Homo sapiens: one gene and its partner. The protein of the gene in region 1 interacts with the protein of each later gene in a biochemical or structural test. Each region holds a gene or a part of one and is shown in the gene's direction. Other genes may lie near its edges.

Region 1 (3,812 bases):
CACCACAACCTCGGCCTCCCAGGTTCAAGCGATTCTCCTGCCTGCCTCAGCCTTCCTGAGTAGCTGGGATTACAGGCATGCGCACCACGCCCACCACGCCCAGCTAATTTTGTATTTTTAGTAGAGATGGGGTTTCCCCATGTTGGTCAGGCTGGTCTCGAACTCCCAGCCTCAGATGATCCACCCCCCGACCCCCAACTTGGCCTCCCAAAGTGCTGGGATTACAGGTGTGAGCCACCATGCCCAGCAGTGTTGAAATTGTTTTAATCAGAAACAGTAAGGCTGGGGAGACTGGTTGAGACTTATCCTTACATCTGGGATCTAAGACTGAGGTCGTGTTCAATTTACCAGATCACTCTGCCTCGGAGCCTCCATATCTATGTTGGAACATTCTGGAATGTTGCTAGGTTGGGTGATTCCTCTTTTCTGTAGGAGTTTCTTCCCCACTTTCACCTAGTACCGGTGACTAAATGCCCATGTGAGGGCATTAAGTGGGTAAGGCACTCTCTGGAAGCTTCTGCTTGATAAGCCGCCTGTCTAATTTGAGAAACAGCCCTGATGGAGGGTAGCAGGTGGAGGTGCCAGGTGCATTGTGTCAGGAGGGAGCCATGAAAACTGCTGAACAGTGCTTGTCTATGGCTTCACAAGTCCTTCAGTTCTTTTTTTGCTTTACTTTGTTTCATAGATATTAATGACTGTGAGAGCAACCCTTGTAGAAACGGTGGCACTTGCATCGATGGTGTCAACTCCTACAAGTGCATCTGTAGTGACGGCTGGGAGGGGGCCTACTGTGAAACCAGTGAGTCTGCCACTCTTTGGGGAGCTCTGGGATGTATGGGTCATGTTGGAGGGATCCCACTTCAACGTGGGAAAACTTTCTTTGTACTGGAAATCTCTGGAAGCAAGACCGCAGTGATTTCTGCACTGGGACAGTATCACTTGTGTCTCATTTGCATTTATGAGTCCTGATGATAGCTTATGGGGAGGAGCTTCTGCTGAGGACCTATAGAATTAGACTGTGTAATAAATATTCCTGCTTGCAAGGAAAGTCATATTTCTACTTTCATTTCCATGGGACTTCCAGAGGCCCACCCCACATCTTGCCTAACTTGTGGCATTCAAAGTAACCCAGTTGGGAGCTCCTTTATTCCTGGAAAAGCCTGATTGTGTTAAAGTACTACGACTGTGGCTGTTCTCAGAATAGGATGTTGGATGTAAGCAGTAGGAAAGGCTTGGCTCTCGCCTGTCGTGAATGGTCCTGGATCTCGTCTTCAGCCGATTGTCTCCCCTTTGATTCTAGATATTAATGACTGCAGCCAGAACCCCTGCCACAATGGGGGCACGTGTCGCGACCTGGTCAATGACTTCTACTGTGACTGTAAAAATGGGTGGAAAGGAAAGACCTGCCACTCACGTAAGTGGTAGTTGGCCTTGGATGCTATCTCTGGGACCCTTCCCTCTGTCTTCTGTGGGAGGGGGCCACTGGGACTCACACTGAAATATTTTCCTCCAGGTGACAGTCAGTGTGATGAGGCCACGTGCAACAACGGTGGCACCTGCTATGATGAGGGGGATGCTTTTAAGTGCATGTGTCCTGGCGGCTGGGAAGGAACAACCTGTAACATAGGTAACTTTATGCCCCACGTGGGATCTGCAGTGGGCATGGCCACCTGGGCGTGTCTGCTGGTTGGCCCCTGGAGCTTATGATATTTCTCTGGGCCTGGTTCTTGCCCCTCCAGACTGTTTCTGGATACTCAGGGAGGGTGGTCGTGTCTGCTCTTCTTTTATAGCCCGAAACAGTAGCTGCCTGCCCAACCCCTGCCATAATGGGGGCACATGTGTGGTCAACGGCGAGTCCTTTACGTGCGTCTGCAAGGAAGGCTGGGAGGGGCCCATCTGTGCTCAGAGTGAGTGTCCTCCCCCCTTGAACTCTCCCAGGGCTGTCGGAGCAGATCCTGACACCCTTGGGGACTTGCAATGGAAACCAGAAGCAGAGCTGTTTGATGTCTGCTTTTGTATCACCTGGGTCTGCATTAATGACTTGATGGGATACAGCCCTGACCTGGGCATGAGAAAGTCGCCAATAAGATAAGTGGAGACAGATGGCGTCTCAGTTCCCAGCTCTGGGTCTGACCAGCAGCCTGTCTCCTTCCATTCTCACCCCCACCCCTATCCCCTACCAGGGCCTCTTCCTGTGTACATGTGTCCCACAGCAAATGAAACTAAGTGTGGTGCGGGCCTGGTTCCAATTTAGCAAAGGTATTTTGCTGGTGTTAACTACGACTTTATCATTTGGGTATTAGGAAAATAAGTGGTGGTTTTACTTAGGGCTAAGACCGCTTTCCCTGTTGAAGTCCTCACTATTAAGTTGTCTTTTCTTTGCAGATACCAATGACTGCAGCCCTCATCCCTGGTAAGTGTGACATCCTTTTAAGCCAGCACTCATCCACTATCGTGTGTGTGTGTGTGTGTGTGTGTGTGTGTGTGTGTGTGAGAATCACCCAGGGATTGTGTTTAAAATGCAAGTTCTGAGTCAGGAGGTCTGGGGTGGGGCCTCAGACTGCTTTTCTAACAAGCTCCCAGGTGAAGCGATCCTGCTGCCCCATGGACCACACTTTAATTAGCCAGGTTGTGTCCTCATTTAGAGCAGTGATTTTTCAACCTTGGCTGCACACCAGAATCACCTGGGAGCTTTTAAAAATCCCGCTGCCTGGGCTGCAACCAAGACCTGTGAAATTAGACTTTCTGGGGGTGGGACCCAGGCATCAGTATTCTTTTAAAATTCCCCAGGCAACGGCCATGGGGTGAGAGCCACTGACTGTAACTGGTGTGGTGACATGTGAGTGATTGGCAGCCAGAGTAATGGACTGGGAGGTTGGTAACCAAGGTGGTCTTTGCTTTCTTAGTTACAACAGCGGCACCTGTGTGGATGGAGACAACTGGTACCGGTGCGAATGTGCCCCGGGTTTTGCTGGGCCCGACTGCAGAATAAGTAAGGACTGTCTCCGTCTGGTTTTCCCAATGGCTTTACCGCTTCATTCCATGCCTCACCCCAAGACTTTCATCTTTAAAAACAAAGCCACCATTCCCTTTAAGTAGCTCTCATAGAGCAAAGGATCTCTCTCCTCCAGCTGGGATTAAGATATGCCAGGCTGGATCCTCCCAGGTACCTGCTGGTAGTTCCCTGGGTGGTGTAGCCCTCCTTGTTCTTGGGGAGAGAGTGCCAGTCACAGAATCTGATGATTAATCTACAGTGGGGTCCTGAAGAAAGTATGTGCATTTCCCCATGACTAACATGAAATTATGGGCAAGCAGATGTTAACCACAGCTACACTGGTATAGGATAAAGCTAATACAAACGGAAGGGAGGACGACTGTGGCTTCCAGAGGCTTGTCTGTGCTGGGTCTGATCAGGCCCTGGAGAAATGACTAAAACAGGAAAATAGGGGCAGGCAACGCAGTTTTTCAAGAGGCTTAAAGCATATTATTTTGAGCCTTTTCTCTACTTTTTTACAAGCCCTTTCTCTTACAGAACAAAAAAGGTGCTAGAGTAGTTATGGTTTGATTCTTGTACCCAAATTGTCTGAAATTTTACTGGTGCTTGAAATCCAAGTCTGGGATTAACTAGTCTTCAGCACTAGATGGGGGCAGGTTGTATCTGTTTCATGTTTCTAAATAAACAGTTGGCAAACTGTGGCCCAGGGGCCGTATCCAGCCCACTGTCTGTTTTTATAAATACAGTTTTCTTGGCACACAGCCACACATTCATTTATGTATTGTCTATGGCTACTTTCATGATACCACAAGAGTTG
Region 2 (3,812 bases), on another chromosome or scaffold:
CAGCCTGGTCAATATGGTGAAACCCCATCTCTACTAAAAACACAAAAATTAGCTGCGCGTGGTGGTGCACACCTGTAATCCAAGTCTCTCAGGAGGCTAAGGCACGAGAGTAGCTTGAACCCAGGAGGTGGAGATTGCAGTGAGCCAAGATTGCACCACTGCACTCTAGCCTGGGTGACAGAGTGAGACTCCTTCTCAAATTTAAAAAATAAAAAAAAGATTATGCTAGGCCGGGCACAGTGGCTCATGCCTGTAATCCCAGCACTTTGGGAGGCCAAGATGGGAGGATCGCTTGGGCCCAGGACTTTGAGACCAGCCTGGACAACATAGTGAGTTTTTGTCATCTCTACAAAAACTTGGTAGGCTGGGTGTGGTGGCTCACGCCTGTAACCCCAACACATTGGGAGGCCCAGGCGGGTAGATTGCTTGAGCTCAGCAGTTTGAGACCAGCCTGGGCAACATGGCAAAACCCTATCTCTACCAAAAATACAAAAAATTAGCTGGGCATGGTAGCGCATGCCTGTAGTCCCAGCTACTCTGGATGCTAAGGTTGAAGGATGGCTTGAGCCCAGAAGGTGGAGGTTGCAGTGAGCTGAGACTGAGCCACTGCGTTCCAGCCTGGGAGACAGTGTAAGACCGTGTATAACAAAAAAGAGAGAGAAAAAAAGATGATGCTGGAGGCAGCTTTAGTGGGGAAGTGTAAGCCTGGGAGAGGCTTGGGAGGAGGCTGACATTGCACTGATGCATGGCTCAGGGCAGAAGCCATTGGAATGGGGAACTCCTGGGAGTTACCTTTGGAAGTGGCAAAGATCAGAGAACATGTTTAGGAGGGGAACGTGGATATAGAAAGAGGGCATACATGGCAGAGGGTATTACAGAAGCAAAGGCTGGAGTGTAGGACCCTTTTGTAATCAGAAGAGTCAAAAGGTTTTAAAACAATATGTGGATGTTTGCAATTTATTTTATTTTATTTTTGAGACAGAGTCTCACTTTGTCACCCAGGCTGGAGTACAGTGGCATGATCTCAGCTCACTGCAGCCTCGACTTCCTGGGCTCAAGTGATCCTCCCACCTCAGTCCCCCAAGTAGCTGGGATTACAGGCGTGCGCCACCATGCCCGGCTAAGCTTTGTATTTTTTGTAGAGACGGGTCTCACTATATTGCCCAGGCTGGTCTTGAACTCTTGAACTCAAGCGATGCACTCACCTTGGCCTCCCAAAGTGCTAGGATTATAGACGTGAGCCACTGTGCCCGGTCTGCAATTTATTTTTAAATGGTTTAGAAAAGAAGATTGGTAGATTAAGCTAACAATAGTTGAATCTAGGTGGTGGGTATATGAATGGTCAACTTTTCTGTATGTTTGATAGTTCTCATAATAAATGGATTAAAAAAGCAGCTACTAAATACTGTTTAGGTTTAATAAAAACAACAGGCCGGGCGCGGTGGCTCACGCCTGTAATCCCAGCACTTTGGGAGGCTGAGGCAGGCAGATCACCTGAGGTCAGGAGTTTGAGACCAACCTGGCTAACTTGGTGAAACCCCGTTTCTACTAAAAATACAAAAAATTAGCCGGGCGTGGTGGCACATGCCTGTAATCCCAGCTACTCGGGAGGCTGAGCAGGAGAATCGCTTGAACCTGGGAGGTGGAGGTTACAGTGAGCCAAGATCGCGCTATTGTACTCCAGCTTGGGCAACAAGAGCGAAACTTCGTCTCAAAAAACAAAACAAAACAACAACAACGACAAAACAATACTCAAGGGGTGTGGGCCTTTTGGGCAGAGCAGGAAGATCTGCCTATGACTTCTGCTTACCACTTCCCAGGCCTCCTGTGTCACCTGGATGACGCCTGTGTCAGCAACCCCTGCCACGAGGATGCTATCTGTGACACAAATCCGGTGAACGGCCGGGCCATTTGCACCTGTCCTCCCGGCTTCACGGGTGGGGCATGTGACCAGGATGTGGACGAGTGCTCTATCGGTGAGGGGAGCTCCATCGTCTGTGAATGGGCTGGGAAAGAGGGGAGAGGAGGGGGTCCCGGCCAGCCACGCCCACACCGATCGCACTCCATCCGGCAGGCGCCAACCCCTGCGAGCACTTGGGCAGGTGCGTGAACACGCAGGGCTCCTTCCTGTGCCAGTGCGGTCGTGGCTACACTGGACCTCGCTGTGAGACCGATGTCAACGAGTGTCTGTCGGGGCCCTGCCGAAACCAGGCCACGTGCCTCGACCGCATAGGCCAGTTCACCTGTATCTGTATGGCAGGTGGGTGGTGGGCGTGGCCTGGGCGGGTCCTGAGGCAGGGGGCGGGGACAGAGAAGCCCGCGGATGGGGAGCTGAGCAGAATGGGGTGTAAGTGGGTTTGGAGTGGGACCCTTAGAGACTGAAGCCTGGAAGGAGGTGGGGTCAGGACCAGAAGGGAATACTGTGTGATTCTGGGGGCTTGGTCAAATGGAGTCAGTAGAACCTCAGGTGGGCTGGGAGTATTCTTGGCCTTAGGACCCACTCGGGAAGGGGTTGGGGATAGAGAGGCAGAGTCGGGGCTGCTGTGAGGTCAAGGTGAAGCCTGCAGACAAGCTTGCAGTAAGCCTGGGCAAAGGCTATGGGGGGCCCTGGGGCTGGGGGCTGGGGACTGGGGAAAGGGCTTAGTCTGAGGACTGGGGAGAGGAGGAGGGGTTTGAAGGCAAGGCCTCTGCGGACACCCATGAGCCTTGGGCCAGTTGGGACCACGGCTGGGTGACAGTCCAGCCTGTGGCTGAAAATTAAGGTTGGGCTGGGAGTGTAGAGGTGGGGACGAAGGCTCGGGGGATTTGTCGATGAGTAGGAAGGGAAGTACCTCCTTCCTTGCACCCCGTTCACACCATAGGGTAGCCCCCGCTTTCCTAAGCCCTATTCCCTGCCCCAGGCTTCACAGGAACCTATTGCGAGGTGGACATTGACGAGTGTCAGAGTAGCCCCTGTGTCAACGGTGGGGTCTGCAAGGACCGAGTCAATGGCTTCAGCTGCACCTGCCCCTCGGGTGAGGACCTCAGGAGAGGGAGCCCGAAAAGACATGTCTGGGAAGGGGCAAAAACTCCAGGGTGGGAACCTGTAAAACCACGTTAGCGGATAACTTACAATAGAAACCATATGTTATGAAACATTGAAGTTAATTTAAATCCAAGTAAATGGGTTTTTCCACCCAAACAAGGCGGGGCTGGAGAGGGGTGTACTGCTCTCACCCTTTCTGGGCCTCTGCTCATCCCACTCCCCACCCCAGGCTTCAGCGGCTCCACGTGTCAGCTGGACGTGGACGAATGCGCCAGCACGCCCTGCAGGAATGGCGCCAAATGCGTGGACCAGCCCGATGGCTACGAGTGCCGCTGTGCCGAGGGTGAGGCGGGCCAATGACAGTCCGACAAGAATCAGGAGGCGGGGCTTGTGGGCGACAGGGCCAATAACAGACTTGGGGAGAGCTTGGGGGCGGGGTTGTAGCAAGGCAGGACCCAGTGACAGAGTTGGGGGGTGGAGCCAATAATGCATATAGACTGACATAAGGCTACGTGTGGAGCCAAAGTGTTGGGCTGGGCACAGGGTGCCTGTAACTGAATGGGGAGGGCCCAATACCTTCCCCTGGCACCTGCCATGTGCTCCCATCTCCAGTGGAGGGTGGGGCAGAAACAGGGCTGGAGGTGGGGCCACAGCTGGGGGCGGGATTTAACTGTGGGAGAGTCTTGGCTAGGGACAAATTCTGGAGCTTGTAGTGGGGTGGAGTGGAAGTAAGTGGGGGGTGGGGGGTGGGGCCTGTATTGAGCTCGCCTCCTGACAGCTTGATGGG

The links.
Region 2: the proteins of JAG1 (region 1) and NOTCH3 form a complex in vitro, tested with the Homo sapiens proteins (one study listed by BioGRID).

Annotation. Positions count from the first base shown.
Region 1 is NC_000020.11:10,642,958-10,646,769, reverse strand, and holds part of JAG1 (protein jagged-1 precursor), read left to right. Parts: intron 1-685; coding exon 686-799; intron 800-1,300; coding exon 1,301-1,414; intron 1,415-1,513; coding exon 1,514-1,627; intron 1,628-1,790; coding exon 1,791-1,907; intron 1,908-2,385; coding exon 2,386-2,413; intron 2,414-2,906; coding exon 2,907-2,992; intron 2,993-3,812. UniProt on the Homo sapiens protein: Ligand for multiple Notch receptors and involved in the mediation of Notch signaling. May be involved in cell-fate decisions during hematopoiesis. Seems to be involved in early and late stages of mammalian cardiovascular development.
Region 2 is NC_000019.10:15,187,437-15,191,248, reverse strand, and holds part of NOTCH3 (neurogenic locus notch homolog protein 3 precursor), read left to right. Parts: intron 1-1,820; coding exon 1,821-1,976; intron 1,977-2,074; coding exon 2,075-2,260; intron 2,261-2,900; coding exon 2,901-3,014; intron 3,015-3,254; coding exon 3,255-3,368; intron 3,369-3,812. UniProt on the Homo sapiens protein: Functions as a receptor for membrane-bound ligands Jagged1, Jagged2 and Delta1 to regulate cell-fate determination.